Regions from separate parts of the Homo sapiens genome. Here region 2 is linked to region 1. The links come from fine-mapping of genetic effects on gene expression. Tissue or cell type: whole blood. Region 1 holds a variant in brackets; the other region holds the start of a gene. All regions are shown on one strand. Distances are between the middles of the regions. Region 1 has its middle 27 kb from the start of DOCK9-DT. Region 2 holds the start of DOCK9-DT (DOCK9 divergent transcript).

What was found. PIP is the estimated chance that this variant, and not a neighbour inherited with it, causes the effect.
Region 2: DOCK9-DT starts here. The variant in region 1 is fine-mapped to the expression of DOCK9-DT in whole blood (TOPMed, PIP 0.98).

Annotation. Positions count from the first base shown.
Region 1 is chr13:99,055,456-99,063,455 of GRCh38, reverse strand. It overlaps a transcript of DOCK9 not described here. Among named protein-coding and RNA genes, the nearest start is that of DOCK9-DT, 27 kb to the left of the region's middle. The variant C/T (reference allele first, on the strand shown) is at 4,315.
Region 2 is chr13:99,083,414-99,092,471 of GRCh38, reverse strand. DOCK9-DT (DOCK9 divergent transcript) reads right to left here and starts at 5,749. Exons shown (of 1, transcript NR_047482.1): 1 at 3,847-5,749. It also overlaps a transcript of DOCK9 not described here. RefSeq lists enhancers at 4,064-4,623, 5,186-5,747 and silencers at 4,628-4,857, 5,438-5,497, 5,588-5,897, 5,938-6,417.

The DNA of each region.
Region 1 (8,000 bases):
GGAGTCGCAGGGTGGAGGAAGGTGTTTGGACACCTGGGTACCCACACCCAGGTGAGGCCTAGCCCCAGCATTTGGTAGGAATGTGTGTATTCTCTGCTCGGTGAGGCCTTCTAGGCTGGGAAGGGTTCCCCACAGTCTGGGTAGGGCCGTAGGGCTGTCACCAGCAGTGTCATTTTGGCTCACTAGCCATGAATAGAGCACGACATCTTTCAGTATGACCCAGGCTTGCTTTTCATCGTTCGTTTGTCCCTGTTCTTTTCTACCTTGCCTCTGTCTAGACTTACTGCACAAGCCTTCCTGTTGGTTCTTTTCTTTTGTTTCTTAAATCCTTCTCTAATATTCTGACATAGAGAGTGATTCTTTCTGTTGCTGGCTTTCCTGGACCTCTTGTATTCTGAGTCGTGAACCTTCACATGGGTCTTTTCCTAATTCGGTCCCTTATCTGACAGTGGCTGGTTTGTCTTTCTTCAAAAGATGGTGTCATGATGGATGCCCAGCAAATGGTAACACCCGCAGAGTAGTAGAGAGTAGATTCGGGGACCCTGGGCTGGCAGCTCCATAATTCTTTCTCCCTTTTCTGCCAAAGAGACAGGATATTAAACCACTGAACTGGCGCGGTCCTGGGCTGCCTGCCAATGGAATATTTGGGGAGAGAATGGTGCAGCTTTTGTTTCTCTTGCCTTCTGTGGAGCCCTGGGGTGGATTCTGAAGGGATGTTTTCCCTCGCAGGAGTAACCCATTTGGTATTGAGAAAGCAGGAAAGCAAGTTTTCCTGTTACGAGCAGTGAACAAAAAGCAGAAAAGCAGGCAGCGGATGGCGATATCCTGTTGTAGAAGGCTTGCGGGAGCGAATGCAGACAAGTGCCCCTCATTCTTTCCGTGTCTTTAAGAAAAGCCAGGAGATGAGAAGGAAATTGGTTACTTTGCAGGCCACATCCAAATGGTTTTCCTCTTATTTATGGTGCTTATCAAGGAGGTCATAAGTGTATGTTTTGTGATTTAAAAACTTGTCAGACCAGAGATCTATAACACATGACAAATTAGAAAAACGAAATAGATTGGTGGGTTTTTTGGTTGGTTGGTTTCCCATGAGGTCATTCGAAGTTTGCTTGGGAGGGGGCAATGAACTGTAAAAGTAAATGTAAACTTTATACAAGTTTTATTTATTTTTAAGTTTAAAATCACTTAAAGATGGCACAATTCCTACTGAGTTAGATTTATAAGAAGTTGGCTTGTCAGATGCTCTTAGGGGACCTTTCTTTGGTACATTTTACAATGAACTAGGGATGGGCATGGTGGCTCATGCCTGCAATTCCAGCATTTTCAGAGACCAAGGTGGGAGGACCACTTGGGCTCAGGAGTTCGAGACCAGCCTAAGCAACATAGCGAGAGCCCGTCTCTACAAAACATAAAAAAATTAGCCAGGCATGGTGGCATGTGACTGTGATTCCAGCTAATTGGGAGGTTGAGGTGGGAGGATCACTTGAGCTTAGGAGTTAGAGGCTGCGGTGAGCTGTGATGGCGCCATTGTACTTCAGTCTGGGCAGCAGAGTGAGACCGTGTCTCAAAAAAAAAACAAAACCAAAAACAAAAAACAAAAAGCTTTTTCCTCTCTTATTACATGAGCAATACATGTTTATTATAGGAAAATTAGAAAACATTTACAGACAACCAAACAGTACCGGAATGGGATAGAAAGGCATGGAGGTGGAAAATGAGAGTGATGTGGTGAGAAGGAAAAGGAAGGTCGCCTGGGAGCAGTGGGGGTGGGGAGAGGGCCAGGGAAACCTCACTGGGATACTCAGGCCCCCAGTGAGCTCCCCTTCCTGTGAGGCTGCCTCACTTTGATACTACACCTTCTGTTGTGACTTTATACCCTTTGACGCTGGCTTCCCCAGTCTGCCATGGGTCTAGACCTGATCATTCCAGATTTGCTTGGCACTAGAAAACTGTAATGGCAAGTTGCAAGACCAGTTAATTCAGTGCATCTCCCATCTTGTTAGTCAAGGCGAGGGAGTGCTAGGCAAGGAGGGTCTCTAAGACAGGCAGATTTCTATCAGTGAGGGAGTGTTGTGTGTGTGACTCTTTGAGAATCTTGGCTATAAGGGAGATAATATTTTTTAAAAGATGCAGAAAAGTAAAATAAAATGTTTTTTTGGGGGAGGAGAAAGTGTACAGCAGTCCTTGACATCCTTCATTGTCTTTTTGACCCTCCTGTTCCCCTCAGTGTCTTGCCATATTGACAAATGCTTAGGTGTTCTATGGAATGAAACAGCTTGGGCTCACTGTTTTATCTCAGTAAACATTTATAGAGCAGCTGTCAGTAGAGTATACTTTCAGTCAGCTTTAGCTTATAAAGATGAGAGATCCTTAAAAGGCAAGGGATTAAACTGCCTTGGGCTTTTTTGTATCTGTGAAAACATATTTACTGTCAAATCCACTAGTTATTTTATTACAGGTAATGTAGGATTAACATGTAAAGGGAAAGTGAAGGCTCAGACTGGATAATCTGTTGATTTTGGTAACTTATTTATTTAACATGCATTCACTGAGTATTGTTACACACCAGCCACTCTGCCAGACCCTGAGGATAGAGCTGTAAATGGGACAGACTCAGCCCCTGACCTTGCAGACCTTACAGTCTGGTCAGGACCTAAGTAGCTGATCAGACAGTTCCAGTATAGTGGGATCAGGGACCCAAAGATACCCTAGACAGGATACTGCAGATGTGTGGGGTGCCCTGTGATGATATGAGAAAGGTACCTGCTCTAGACCCAAGGAGTGACATCTTATAAAGACAGATATTATAAGATACCATGTCTGTTATTGTTATGTTGGTAAGGACGTGGAGAGATTTGAACCGTCATACATTGCTGGTGTTAAATGGTGCAGGCACTTGGAAAACAGTTTGGCGTTTCTTCAGAAAGTTAAATATAGAGTTATTTGACCTAGTTCTATGACCCAGCAGTTCCACTCCTAGTTATATATCCAAAAGAATTGAAAATATGTTCACATAAAAATGTGTACTTGTGTGTTCTTAGTAGTATTATGGATAATAGCCAAAAAGTAGAAATAATCGGGCCAGGCGCAGTGGCTCACGCCTGTAATCCCAGCACTTTGGGAGGCCGAGGCAGGTGGATCATGAGGTCAGGAGATCGAGACCATCCTGGCTAACACGGTGAAACCCCGTCTCTACTAAAAAAATACAAAAAAATTTAGCTGGGTGCGGTGACGGGTGCCTGTAGTCCCAGCTACTCAGGAGGCTGAGGCAGGAGAATGGCGTGAACCCTGGAGGCGGAGTTTGCAGTGAGCCGAGATCATGCCACTGCAGTCCAGCCTGGGAGACAGAGTAAGACTCCATCTCAAAAAAAAAAAAAAAAAAAAAAAAAAAAAGTAGAAACAATCAAATGTCTGTAACTGATGTGTAGTATATCCACCCAATAGAATATTATTCAGCCATTCAAAGGAGTGGAGTACTGACACATGCCACAGTATGGATGAATCTTGATAACATTATGTGAAGTGGAAGAAGCCAGACGTAAAAGGCCACATATTGTTGCATTCCATTTATACGCGATGTCCAGAATAGCATAGAGACAGAAAGTAGATGAGTGGTTGCCAGGGACTGGAGGGAGGGGCATGGAGAGTGACTGCTGATGGTGTGAGCTTTCTTTTGGAGTGGTGAAAATTAGATTGTTATGATGATTGCATGACTTTGTGGATATATAGTAAAATGACTGAATTGTATGCTTTGGATGAGTTTTGTGGTATGTGAATTATATCACAAAACTTTATTAAAAACACAAGTTTGTATTTTGTCCTGAGGTTGGTTGAGAGCCTCTGAAGGATTTTAAACAGGACAGTGATGTGGTTGCATTTGTATTTTGGGAAGATCATTCTGGCTGCAGTGAAGAGTTGGCTTGGAAGGGACTGTTAGAATAATACAGATGAGGAACATTGGGAAATAGCTGCGGGAATGATAGGAAGTAGACAGGTCCAAAATCTAAAACTCAGTGGGGTTGGGTAATTGATTAGATGTAGGAGGGAGGGGAGAGGAATCAAGGATGATGCCTGTATGCCCAGCTGATCCATGGGTGGAAGAACAAGCAGGTGAGGGAAGAAAGATGACCTCGGCATGCCACAGCTGGACCCGTGGAGATGTCCCTGGAACAGGCCCATTGAGGTGTTGAGTAGGCAGCTGATACAGAGCTCAGGAACCCAGCATCTCAGGGGGCTTGCTAAAAATGCAAATTCTTGGACTCGACTGCAGACATTTGAGCCAGGATCTCTGGTCATGGTGTATTTACCATGGCC[C/T]GCCTTGAAGCCACAGTCGTGGGTGTGATTTCTAGTGGTGAGTGTGTAGAGGAGATGAGGAGTGGGTCCCTCACCATTTACAGGACGGGTAGTGGAGAGAGGACCTCACAGGAGACTGGGCCAAGGCCAGAGAGATAAGAAGCCTCCAGGAGGTCAGGTGTCAGGGAAGCCAAGGGAAGTGTGTTTCCAAAGCCAGGAGGCTTCCTGGGGTGCCACAACCTTCTGAGAGGTGAAGTGGGGTGTACATGCAGAGTTTGCACTGGATTCACCAGTGAAGTGATGGCTTTGGTAAGGGCCATGGGTGCTGCAGAGATGTCCCCAAAGCAGGGCTCGTGTGTGGCTGCTACATGTGCCCTATGAGTGCTTTAGGGGGTGGAGTCCTTGCAGTGCTTGAAGGGCAGCATGACCCAGCCTGCCTTCCTTGGCTCTGTTACCTTCTACAGTGTGGCCTTATTTGAGCATACCAGGTGCTTCCAGGCCTCCACTGGGTGAGGGTGGATGGGGGGAACCCTTGGTAAATGGCCCTGGCTCTATGGGGCACATAGAGCAGGATGAGGGAAGAGGTGCAGCATTAGGGCAGGGGGTCCTGGGACCTGCTGACACAAGCAGATGTCTCATCTGGTTCTTCACTGTGCTCTGTGGCCCCTGGCACTGTTTGTATCAAGATATCAAGTACTCTTGGCCAGGTGCAGTGGCTCATGCCCATAATCCCAGCACTTGGGGAGGCCGAGGTGGGCGGATCACTTGAGGTCAGGAGTTCAAGACCAGGCTGGCCAACATGGTGAAACACCTCTACTAAAAATACAAAAATTGGCTGGGTGTGGTGACGCATGCCTGTAATCCTAGCTATTCAGGAGGCCGAGGCAGGAGAATCACTTGAACCTGGGTGGCGGAGGTTGCAGTGAGCTGAGATGGTGCTGCTGCACTCCAGCCTGGGTGACAGAGTGAGACTCCATCTCAAAAAAAAAAAAAAAAGATATCAAGTACTGTTAGTACACTGTGGGTCAGAATCACCCCACCCAGGCCTGGGTGTTTTTGAAGTTGGGACATTTCATATTTTTCTTGGTTTGTTGGTCATGTACAGTTTGAGAGAGATATTGTATAAATACCCTTCCCCCTCTGTTTTGGCCGTCTTTTGCCTTTTGAAATATTGTCTAATAAAAGTTATGTAATTATTCTAGGATTGTAAATCTAGGTCTCAATCAGTATACAATCAGTTTTCAACATAACAGAATTACAGTGTATTATTACAGTGTATTATCAGTATAAGAAAAATAAATGGGAATGACAGTATGTTCAAACTCAGTTAAATGTGTGTCAATTAGTTTACTGTCCAAGGCGAGTGCCTGCTGATCTCTGTGTTGTAAGCTGGTGTGGCACTCCTGGATTGCTTATCTATGCTTTTGAAATTGCTTTTCTTTAAGGAAGGGATTGTTATTGTTTCAAACAGCTTTGAAGCTGTTCCACTTGTAAATTTATAATTTGTATTTTTAATCTTTATAAGTTGCATTTGCTTTTTCTTTTTTAAAGCAGCAAATCAGTGTTATGGAAACCTTTAGGTGTTAAATATTATTCTTTTATTTGGGAAATATTGCACAACAGCAAGATGTGGAAATCCTCCAAATGCAAGGTTGTCCCTGAGTCAGTGGCTTAGTAAAGAAATCAGAGGCGCAATGAAGATCTGGTCCTCAGCTCACCCAGGACTTACCGTGCCTTAGTGGCAGGGTAATTGTCTCAAAATTAAGATTTAAGAATACCATTTTCCCCCTATTCAGTGGTTACCTGTTTTGTGCTGTAAGATTTCAGGCCCAATATGTCAACTCGTAACATTTTGAGACTACTACTTATTTTTTCTTGTCTGTATGCTAGGAATTAGATGTGTTAATTTGGACTCTTGGTTGCAAGTGACAGAAACTCATTCCAAGTAATTAAAGGAAAAAAGGGATATATGTTGTAAGGACACAGTATGTCTCCAAGAACTAAAGGGTGGGGGTCCAGCTGAGTGTATTGAGGGGGTCCCAGCCTTCAAGATCCTCTCTTATCTCGGCTGCTCTCTAGAGTTTTTGGGTCCTCTGCCTGGAGATTGACTTTCTTTGCTTCTAGTCTACATGGTAGGAATTCGCTGTCTGAGAGACCAGCTACTTGGCAAGAAACTGGTCCTTCTCTCAGGCTGCTCTAATCCCCCAGGGAGGTGATCCACATTGGGTCCGATACCAAGTCATGGGGTCATCTGTAGGAATGTGGCTTCTCGGATCCCCGCTGCTGTACGCATGGCTCCTCAGGGCCACTGTCTTTCCTCAGGGCGAGGAGCTGCTCCTTGGCCTCCAGGGAAGGCCTGTCCTGGGGGGCCTTGCATCAGACCTGGCATGAATGACCCTGATTGCCACTGGGGGAAGGGAAAGAGGACATCTCAGAAAAACAACACGTTACAGGGAAAGGGAGGTGCCGGGCAGCCACCCCAGCAGGTGTACTCTCCATTAAATTTATTTTAGCTGAGAAAATAGAATTGGTGGGGGAGGAGTTTGTTGCCCCCAAACATAAATCCATCCAGAAATGACTTCTAGGTTGCTCATTTCTTTGCTCTGGGTGACTGGGAGCTGGTTTTTTAGCCAAGTCTGGGCCACACCTAGTTGAATCATTACAGACATAATATCTTTTTTCCCCTCAGTTAATGTATAAACTAATATTACTTATCTTTTTTAAAGATATTAATGTATCTTTATAATACTTTTGCATATTTAGTATGTAACCTTACTTTGATAATGTTTTCCAGTAAGATTTGTTGCTTTAAAAGACAAACTCTCAAACAACTTTATCAGTACCATTTAATGTGCCCAAACAATGTCAAACAAGCAATGATTGGATAGCCAGGGAAGCTGAATTGCCTGTTATTAGTTTGTATGGTGAAACATCTCACAATTGCACTTTCAAAAGTATTTTTTACATATATATTCTAAAAATGATCAAAACATTTGGCACTCCGTTTACAGGAAAAAAATATATATTTCCAGGGAAACTCTCTATGTTCACTAAACTGGAAAGACCTTGTGGAATTTAAATTTGTCATCTTCAAAGGCTTTGGTATAGAATACAGTAACCAGACCAGGTTCTGTTTCATTCAGCTACAAAGGCACTTTTGTTGTTACCATTCCACGTCCCTGTGATGCTTAGTGCAGCTGATATTTGGTCCTGACAGTGCTTTTGGAAAGCTTGGCTGATTTCTGAAAAAAATCCCAGATTCTTTGGCCTAGGAATTTATCATAGGCCTCAGATCCTGGGTCTAGTCACTGCAGACAGCTAGTATATGTTAAAAGCTGTCTTAGCCTGTATCTAGTGTCTGTCTTCATTTAAGGCTGGAGAAAGGCTGTACAGGCTTATTAGGCACAGCTGTTAGGAACCTAGAGAACAGTTGACAACTGTGTGCAATATTATGGTAATAGTATAACTTATTAATAATATCAATGTAGTCAATATTATCAATGTAATTGAGTAATACAGCTTAGGCCACAAAGAACTGCATATAGTTTTCCATTAAAATCCCAATCCACATTCCATATGCCTCTCTTCCTGCTCTGCCCTGCACAACTGACCCTGTGCGCCTGGCTGCTCCTCTCTTCTAATTTCTCCCATTGCGGTCCCCTCCACAGTTAAGCACCGGCTCGCTTTCTCTTAGGTGCGATGCCCCC
Region 2 (9,058 bases), 28 kb before region 1:
TTTGGTAGAAATAAGCAGATACTAGCATACTTTCCCTTATTTTTTACCTAAAGACAGCATAGTTCAGTTGCTTTTTTCTTTTTTTTTTTTTTTTGCTTTTTAAAACAACATATCCTGACAATCATTTCACATATATTAATAGGTATCTTTCTCATTCATTTTCTCAGTTGAATAATATCTTTGTGTGCATGTACCACATTGGCTCTATCTCCAATATTTGGGTATTTAGATATTTTCCAATATTTTGCCATTATAAATAATGCTTCAATGAATAACTTGGTGCATAATATTTTCCTTTTTTTAAGGTGTATTTTCACAGAAAATTCCTAGTAGTGGGATTGCTGGCACAAACGGCAAATGCATACATTGTGTTGTCAGATATTGCCATATTCTACTGCATAGCAGTTGTGTCACCTTGCATCTCTACCAGCAATGTGTGACAGTGCCTGTTTCCCAATAGCCTTTCCACATAAAGTGTGATACCTTATAATTTTTCCAATTTGGTGAGAAATTGTATATCAGTGTAGTTTTCATTTGCATTTCTTACATCATAAATGAGGTCAAACACCTTTTCATATGTTTACCAGCCATTTTATATCTTTTCTGTGAATTGTTTGGTCATGAGTTTTGCCCGTTTTCCTATTGTTTGGCCGCCTTCCTGCTTAAATTTTGAGTCAGCTGGAGAATCTTCAAGAGCCTGCAGTGAAGTCAAACTGTCTGCTACTCCAGGCGTGGTCTGTAGGTGAGCAGCATCTGATTTAGGAGCTTGACATCACCTGGAATTTGTTAGCCCTGTAGGCTCTTGGGCACCACAGCTGACCATCTCAATCAGAATTGCATTTTAACAAGATCCACAGGTGACTTATACACATAATAAAATGCGACATGCCCTCGTCTCAGCTATCTCTTAAAGACCTCATATTCCATTTCCTCTAAGAATGTCTCCTAAGTAAAACAGAAGTGAAAGAGGGGATTACATTCTTCCAGTAACATGAACCCTAAGTGGTATCTGGAAACATGTGTTAGATTAATTGTAATACCTTTCCCAGATGCTCTGTCTTGAAGAGATGTGTTTTCTACTTATGTTACCTAGCGGAATAAACAAGAGCCTACTTCTAAGCATGAGTTGATTAATTTCAAAAAACAAATTTGTAAAAAAAAAAAAAGTTTTTAGGTTGGTGCAAAAGTAATTGCAGTTTTTGCCACTGAAATAAAAGATGCAATTACTTTTGCACCAACCTAATAAATGAAGTATAAAGGTAGTGAATGTTCATTAAAAAAATTCAGTCAGGCCGGGCACGGTGGCTTACACCTATAATCCCAGAACTTTGGGAGGTCAAGGTAGGAGGATCACTTGAGCTCAGAAGTTTGATACCAGCCTGGGCAACATAGTGAGACCCTGTATCAACAAATAGTAAAAAAAATTAGGTGGGCGTGGTGGCATGCACCTGTCCTCTGAGCTACTTGGCAGGGTGAGGTGGGAGGATTGCTTGAGCCCAGGAGTTCAAGGCTGCAGCGAGCTATGATGGCACCACTGCTCTCCTTCCTGGACAACAGAGCAATAATCTGTCTCAAAATAAATAAATAAATAAAATTCAATCAGTGCAAGGATAAAATAAAGAACGAAAGTCCCCTTTCACACTTCCCTGTGACAGTGCACAGGAGTGCCTCCTTTTTATGGGTCACTTGTTATTTTTGCTAAAAACAGATATACTCTTTCAAGATATATCCAGAAAAGATTTTAAACTAATTATATGTTATTAAGACACATACAAATCCTAAAGCAAACTTAACAAGGAAATGATGTAGTAAGAGGTTATCATTAAACATGAGTAATGCTTGAATTATAAATTTGGGTGTAGTACAGTCATTTACATGCAAATTTCAGAACTGGCTGCAATTATATTTCATCTCCACTACCTACTAGTATAATTTTCAACAGAAAGAAAAGCTTTCTTCCTATAGTTTGGAAAAACAAAGATGAGGTTACTCCATCAAGCTAATGTAGGTGGATGTATCTTCTACCGTACCTGAGACACCATCCACCCAGTCCAGCCAGAGGTCAGCCTCATCCCAGGTAGCCAGGTAGCACCCTCTTTTGGGCTGATGCTCTGCCCCTCTGTAGGTATGACTGCTCTCCAGGAAATAGTGATGCCAAAAGAATTCACACAATTCCAGGCCCACTCTGGTGGAAATTTTAAAAATAGCCTTTGGCCAGCATGTTGGTTTCCCAGGACTGCTGTAAAAGTTCCACAAACTTAAAACAACAGAATTTCTTCTGTCACTGTTCTAGAGGCTAGAATTCTGAAGTCAAGGTGTCAGCAGGCCATGCTCCCTCTGATGACTTTAGGGAAGAATCCTTCCTTGCCTCTTCCAGTTTCTGGTGGTTCCCAGTGATCCTTGCTGTTCTGTGGCTTGCAGGTGTGCAGTATTCTCCTTCCTACCTTTGTTGTCACATAGTATTTTTCCTTTGTGTATGTATTTGTGTCTCTTCTTATAAAGACACCATTCAGGCTGGGCGTGGTGGCTCACGCCTGTAATCCCAGCACCTTGGGAGGCTGAGATGGGCGGATCACCTGAGGTCAGGAGTTCGACCTGACCTCAGCCTGGCCAACATGGCAAAACCCCTTCTCTACTAAAAATACAAAAAATTAGCCAGGTGTGGTGACAGGTGCCTGTAATCCCAGCCTCCTGGGAGGCAGAGGCTGCAGTGAGCTGAGACTGCACCACAGCACTCCAGCCTGGGCAACAGAGTGAGGCTCTGTCAAAACAAACAAACAAACAAACAAACAAACAACCATTCATACTGAATTAGGGCCCACCTATTCCAGTAGGACCTCACCTTAAGTTGGTTACATGTGCAAAGACCTATTTCCAATAAGGCCACATTCACAGGTACTGGGTTTGGAACTTCAATATATCTTTTGGGGGACTACAATTCAACCCAGAACAGTAGGGACCAAGTTTCTGCTGAAACTTTAACACTAGGAATGTCCCATTTGTTATCAACAGCACTTCACCAGGAAGAAGAGGCTCCACTCTGGGTTGCTGGGTCCATCTTCCTGGGCTTAGTTCACGTTTCCATGCCGCCTTGTCTGTCAGAACCTGTGCTTGGTTAGACATTGCCAGTGACTACTGTTGGCACATTGTCTGTTGTTCTCTGCTTCCTAAATGAAAATCTGCCAATTCTAGAATATACTGAATCAGCAAGTAAGTACAGAATTTAGGAGTGGTAGAGATATGGATAAAATTGGTAGGTTTGGGGAATTCTTCACTTTCCAGATATACATATATTTAAATAAAATTTATGGTAGGTCATTGTCTTGGACTGAGCTCCTGAACTAGGCCCCAACAGACCAGACTAAAATGAAGCCACTGTGTTAGGTGCCACGTAACTAAACAGAGATTTTAAAAAACAGGAAAATCCCCAAAAGGGCCAGTTTTCCAAAAACCAGGAGATTCACAGCAACCAGTCAAACGGGGCCCAGTCAGCCTGAGCCAGCTAAGGCAGCCCCCTCTGCTTTAACCCATAAAGGAGAGTAACCTGAAGTTACCCGATGTGCTTTCGGCACTATGCTTTTCCCTTGTTCCTGCTTAAGTTACCTTAACAAAACCCAGCTGTTCTTCCATTCCCACAAGAGCTCCCGTCTATTTTGTAGTCAGAATGCTGCCTGGTTCATGCATTGCTAATAGAAGCCAATTAGATCTTTAAAACCATTTGTTGAAATTTTGTTCTTTAGACTACACACACACACACACACACACACACACACACACACTCTACTGTAATCATATAGCTCTTAAAAAAAGAAAAGAAAAAAGAATATAAAACCCTACAACCTTAGGTGCTTTTGTTGTTGTTTTTAATTTAAAAAGACAAAATTGTTCGCCTTGTATAGAAGTAGATACAGCTTAGAGAGCCAAGGTAACAAGAGGGGAAAAGTTTGTGTTGTCTGGTACTTTTGAGGGAGTCAGAAGCCTAAAGGGAGGCTCTAACTCATGATTCTCAGAAGACAACTGTTGTCAACAGTTCAAATGAGAACTGAACGGCCACACTCCTGCAGCTGAAAGGAGTCAATGCGAGCTGAGTTGCTCTCACCGAACAGAGTGCGTTCCCCGGGGAGGCAGGGAAAGGCCGGCTTGCACCTGCTCTGTCACCCAGCTCCACTCTTAGGACAGAAGAGGTCTGGAAAATGTCTGGGCCATTCCCTCATTTCACGGAGGAGGAAATGGGTTAGTGTGTAATTGTTTTTATCATCACCCTTGTTTTATCTTTCAATCTGCCAGGCTCACTCAATGCTACATCCTGCAGTCCCCACCCACTGGAGAAACAATCCGATCCTGCAAGTAATTATTGAGTGCGGACGGCATACCTCACCTCCAGACCTGCCCATTAAACCCAGAACGGAGGTGTTTTGCTCTCTGCGCTAGATCGGTATTTTCCCCTACCACTTTAAGATTACGCTTCAGGCCAGTGTTAGGCTTTCTGGTGGGGTGGGACGCAACAGGCGGCCTCCTCCACCGCAGCGATGGCGGCTATGAAACCTCTGGGTATTTGGGCGGGAGGCGCGGCAGGTATTCTCCCAAAACTGGGTTTTCAAGACCACCACTCTCTGCGGAGGCCGACCCGGCAGGTAAGGAACTGTCCATCGGAAGGCAACGGGCGTGGCGTGAGCAGCCCGACCAATCAGCAGAGCCGCCGTTCAGTCAGGCTCCCCGCCCGGGGTACCCGCCCAGTCCCCAACCACTGAGCATGCGCCGCGGGCCTGGCGCAAATCCCCGCCTGGCGCGCCCTCTCCGCGGCCCTGTGAGGGTTAGGCTGCGCCGGGCTTCCTCAGAGAGACAGAAACGGAGCCGGGGCGGGAGCGGGCCCTTAGGGACAGGAAAGCGGTTAGGGTATTGGGGGGAAAGTCCCTCACAGGGTGGCTGTCGCTAGCGGCCGCCAGCTCTGCGTCACGGTGGGCTCGCAAGCCGGCGCATCGCAGTTTCCCTGGTACCCCGCCTGGCGGTCCGGCGCGGAGGGGCGGCAGACCGGCTAAATCGGCCCCAGTGAGGGCCGCCGTGTCACCTGAGCCCCTTCCAGGCCGTTGTCCTCAGGTTACAGGCGACATAACCGAGGCTCCGAAGTATTGCCCACGTCCAAGGTGACGCAGCTGGCCGTCCCGGCGGGCCGGAGTCTGGGAGTCTCCCACGCCTGGCCCGGCCCAACCGTCATCGTCCCGCCGCGAGCTCCGTGCCTCCGGGGACTGAACGGTGGGGAGGCCGAGGCGCCACACGAGCGCGCGGCGCCCCGCGCCAGGTTCCGAGCAGGGACGCTCCGTCCAGGTCCGCCTGGCCGGCCGCGGGTTCCGATCGGTGCCACATAAATAAAGGCTACTTTCCTGAGACCTCTGTCCCCGCAGAGGCCCCGGGCGCAGAGGGGGGGCGTGGTGCACCGAGCTCCGACCCTGCCGGTGACTTCGGGGTCCCCTCGAGCGCAGCCGGGCTCCCTGGGCAGGAAACCCTGCTCCGAAACCGCGCATCGTCCAGCCTCGGCTGTGCGCCCTCTTGGTGGCGTGCGCAGTCCCCTCCTCCGGTCTTCGGACGTGCGGCCCGGGGCGGAGGCGGCCCCGACCCCCCACCTTCCCCAGTGAGGGTCCCGCGCGGCACGCCGCCCCTGCCAGTCCGGCCGCCTAGCTCCAGCGCCGGGCCGCGCCGACCTGCCTGGCCCGCCGTCCCGCCGCGGCGGCCCCTCCTCCGCCGTCCGGGCGCCCCGCCCCGCCCGCGCCGCGCCGGACACCCCGCCCCGAGGAGGCGGCCCGGCGAGTGGTCGCCGAGGGAGGCTGGTGGCATGGGGGAGCCGCCGCCGCCACACGCACGGTCGCCCGGAGCGAGCCCGGGCGCTGCTGCGATCGCGGGGGGCCGCGGACGCCGAGGGGGGCGCCTTGGGGCGTGACACGGTGCAGAGGGCGCGGCCTGGGCTGCGGCGGCCGGACTCGCGGCGAGCAGCGGGGGGAGCAGGCGGCGGCGGCGCCGGGAGCGGCGGGCGGAGCGGGCCGGGCGCCGAGGGCGCACCTGGCGGCCGCGCGGCCGGGCCGGGCCGCGGGAGCAGGCGGAGGCGGAGGCGGCGGGGGCAGGAGGATGTCGCAGCCGCCGCTGCTCCCCGCCTCGGCGGAGACTCGGAAGTTCACCCGGGCGCTGAGTAAGCCGGGCACGGCGGCCGAGCTGCGGCAGAGCGTGTCTGAGGTGGTGCGCGGCTCCGTGCTCCTGGTGAGTGCGGGACGACCGCGGGCCGGGGGAGGATGGCGGGGGCGCAGGCAGCTGCGGGCCCCGGGCCGGGCGCCTCTTAGTCGGCAGGGCTGAGGCAGAGCGGCCGACCCTGCTGGGTCCGCGGAATCAAGAGGTGGGGCCGGCGGGAGGGAGTTGGACAGGGGAGAAGAGAAGGTCCTGGAGGGGCTGCAACTCCCAGACCCCTCCCCGCCACCCAAGATCCTGTCCCCATCGCTGTCCCCTTCCTCCTGGGAAATTTCCGCAGAGTGATGTCGCCCTGTCACTCTTTTCACCCCGCTCTCTCCCAATTTACCTGCTTTCTGTCAACTGGGAAATTACACTCTCCCCCCTCCCCCGCATCCCTCCCCCGTATCCCTCCCCCGGCCTCCCTCTCCTTCCATGTTTTGGAGGGGCGCAGGGGAATTGAGGTGGGGGCTTCCTCATCCAGTCTGCGCTCAGGGTGGGAGATGCCCCTGCTAACCCTTTGAGTTGGCTGAACTCCAGGAGGGAAGGACTTCGGCATCCTCTCCTGCGCCCCCCACCTCCAAGCCGGTATCCTGAAGTTTGGCCGCCTTTTAGGAAGGCTTGGGGGGCATGATGGGAACCCTCGCTAATTTAGTATTGGTGCAAATTCCTGTGACGTTTGGGGGTTCTAAGTAAGCAAAGCCATCAGCCCAAAACGAATCTTCCCGTGGCAGAACGTCTTTAGAGAATAGGCCTCTGGGTGTGAGGAAGATGAAGTTTTCGATTAACTTTTTCACAGCCAGCGCCGGTCCTGCTGTATTTGGAAACGCACTACAACCCGATTCACCTGGATGGTGCGGGAGTGGAGCGACGTTTGAGCAGGAGCGAGCTCTGCAGGGCAGCTGGAAACTTTTAGCAGCTCCTTGCGTTGCCGCCGGCATTTGTTTTCTTGAAACGGGCTTGTTTGTGGGTGGGTGTGACTTGTGTTTGTTGGAACAGTGCAAGAAGATGGGCCTTGGAAGTGGTTGTCTGGGCCCTGTGGGGGATTGTCGGGGCAGAGTGCCGGGCCCCTTAACACAGGGGCGGATGCATCATTTTGGTGGCAGATCGATGCCCTTCCTGGGCAGACACAGAATTGCGTGAATGACGTTTGTGGAGATTGGAGATGAAGCTTCGCTGATTTCTATATCCAGTTTGCTCAGTTTGAATTTTCTCTCGATTGCTAGCTCTGCCAACTCCAAATTTCTCCAACTCCAGTTTGATCCATAGTAAACAAGGATTTAATTTTTCTATTTTAGGGAAGTCGATTAGGTAAGGAGTAGAGCAGGAGTTGGGAATAGACCAGAACCTGGCCATCTCTTCCATAACCAGCTAACTTCTGTGTGGCTTCCTGCATCTTCCTGAGTTTTGCCAGTGCATGTTAAGGATAAAGCCTGCAACTTCTTTGGCATCTTTTCTGTTCTCACACAGAAGTTGGTTCCTTTATCTGGGGCCTGCCGTGGTCATCAGGGATTTGAGGCAGAAGAAGAGTAAATAAAGTGTACCAGTGTGCCATGATTTCCAAAGTGCTGCAGGTACTGGTTTAATAAGCCGTGTAGATGGAGCCCAGGAGTGCTGGTGCAGACACAACACTGCTGATGTGCAGTAGTCCCCGAATATCTGCCCTTCCCATCGGAGGATGGCCTACTAATGGTGACCTAGGAGTGTCCATTCCCACGTGTGACAGGCTGCCAACTGTGTTATCTCATGATACTTTAGTAGTACATCCGTTTTCCCTGGACACCCTTAAGCATGAAGAGCCAGATGCCCGGCTGTTGTCTTAACTCTTAGTCTCGTCTGTCTGTGGTCACTTGTCTGATGAAACCTGTGATGGAACAGATACAAAATGCAGGGAAGCAGGTGGGCCTGCTCTGGCATGTGAGGGCCCCTGGCTGAATGGGAAATAGGAAATGCATTGTGATGGTTCTGAATTGCAGAAGGAAGAATCTGGGAGGGCTTACAGATACTGAAAATTACCCACACACCTCATCCCCCCACCTCCTTCCTGGTACTCTGCCACTGCTTACTTCCTCTAGTGGCTCCAGTGTCTGCCAGGGAGCCACAGCAGGTGCACCTGCCACATAAGTTCTGGCCGGGCTTTGTTGTATGAAGGTCTAAGAGGTGAGGTAAGGTAACCCTGGACTTCTCAGGAGGCAGAGCAGCAACCACGCCAGGTTCAGAATCCCATGGTCTGTGCATCTGTCCTTAGATGGAAATAATTACTCTGTGTCTGATAACTTGGGTCAGCACTAATACAATGCCCACAACATAAATGCTCAATAAATATTCTTATCTAGCTAATAAAGCAGTTCTGCAGATGGATTTAAAAAAAATTAAACTATGTGTGGGTTTAGTAGCTCTTCCCACACTTCAAGTATTGATGAGTGGATGGTCATGAGATCAGAAACAACAAAATGAAATAGTTCAGTGGATGATAAAGGCTGCCATTAAAAACAAGCTTTAAAATGTAAACATAATGTGGGCTTATCCATTTTTCATTGTTCAATAGCTTCATTTTTCATGTGTTCAGGTTCATGGACTTTCATGAATGATTTTGTATTAATTTGTTTGAAAAGCTTGAAAATAAGCATACAAAAAGTAGAGAGAATAGTATAATGAACCTTCATATTTCATCATCCAGATTGAATAATTATTGAGATTTTGCCAAACCTGCTTCATATGTCTCTTCTTCCTATTATTTTTCATGTGTGATTGTGAGTCCCAGGCCTTATATCATTTCACCTCTATATAACTAGTATATGTTACTTAAAAATAGGGTCTATTCTTACATAACTGTGTCATAATA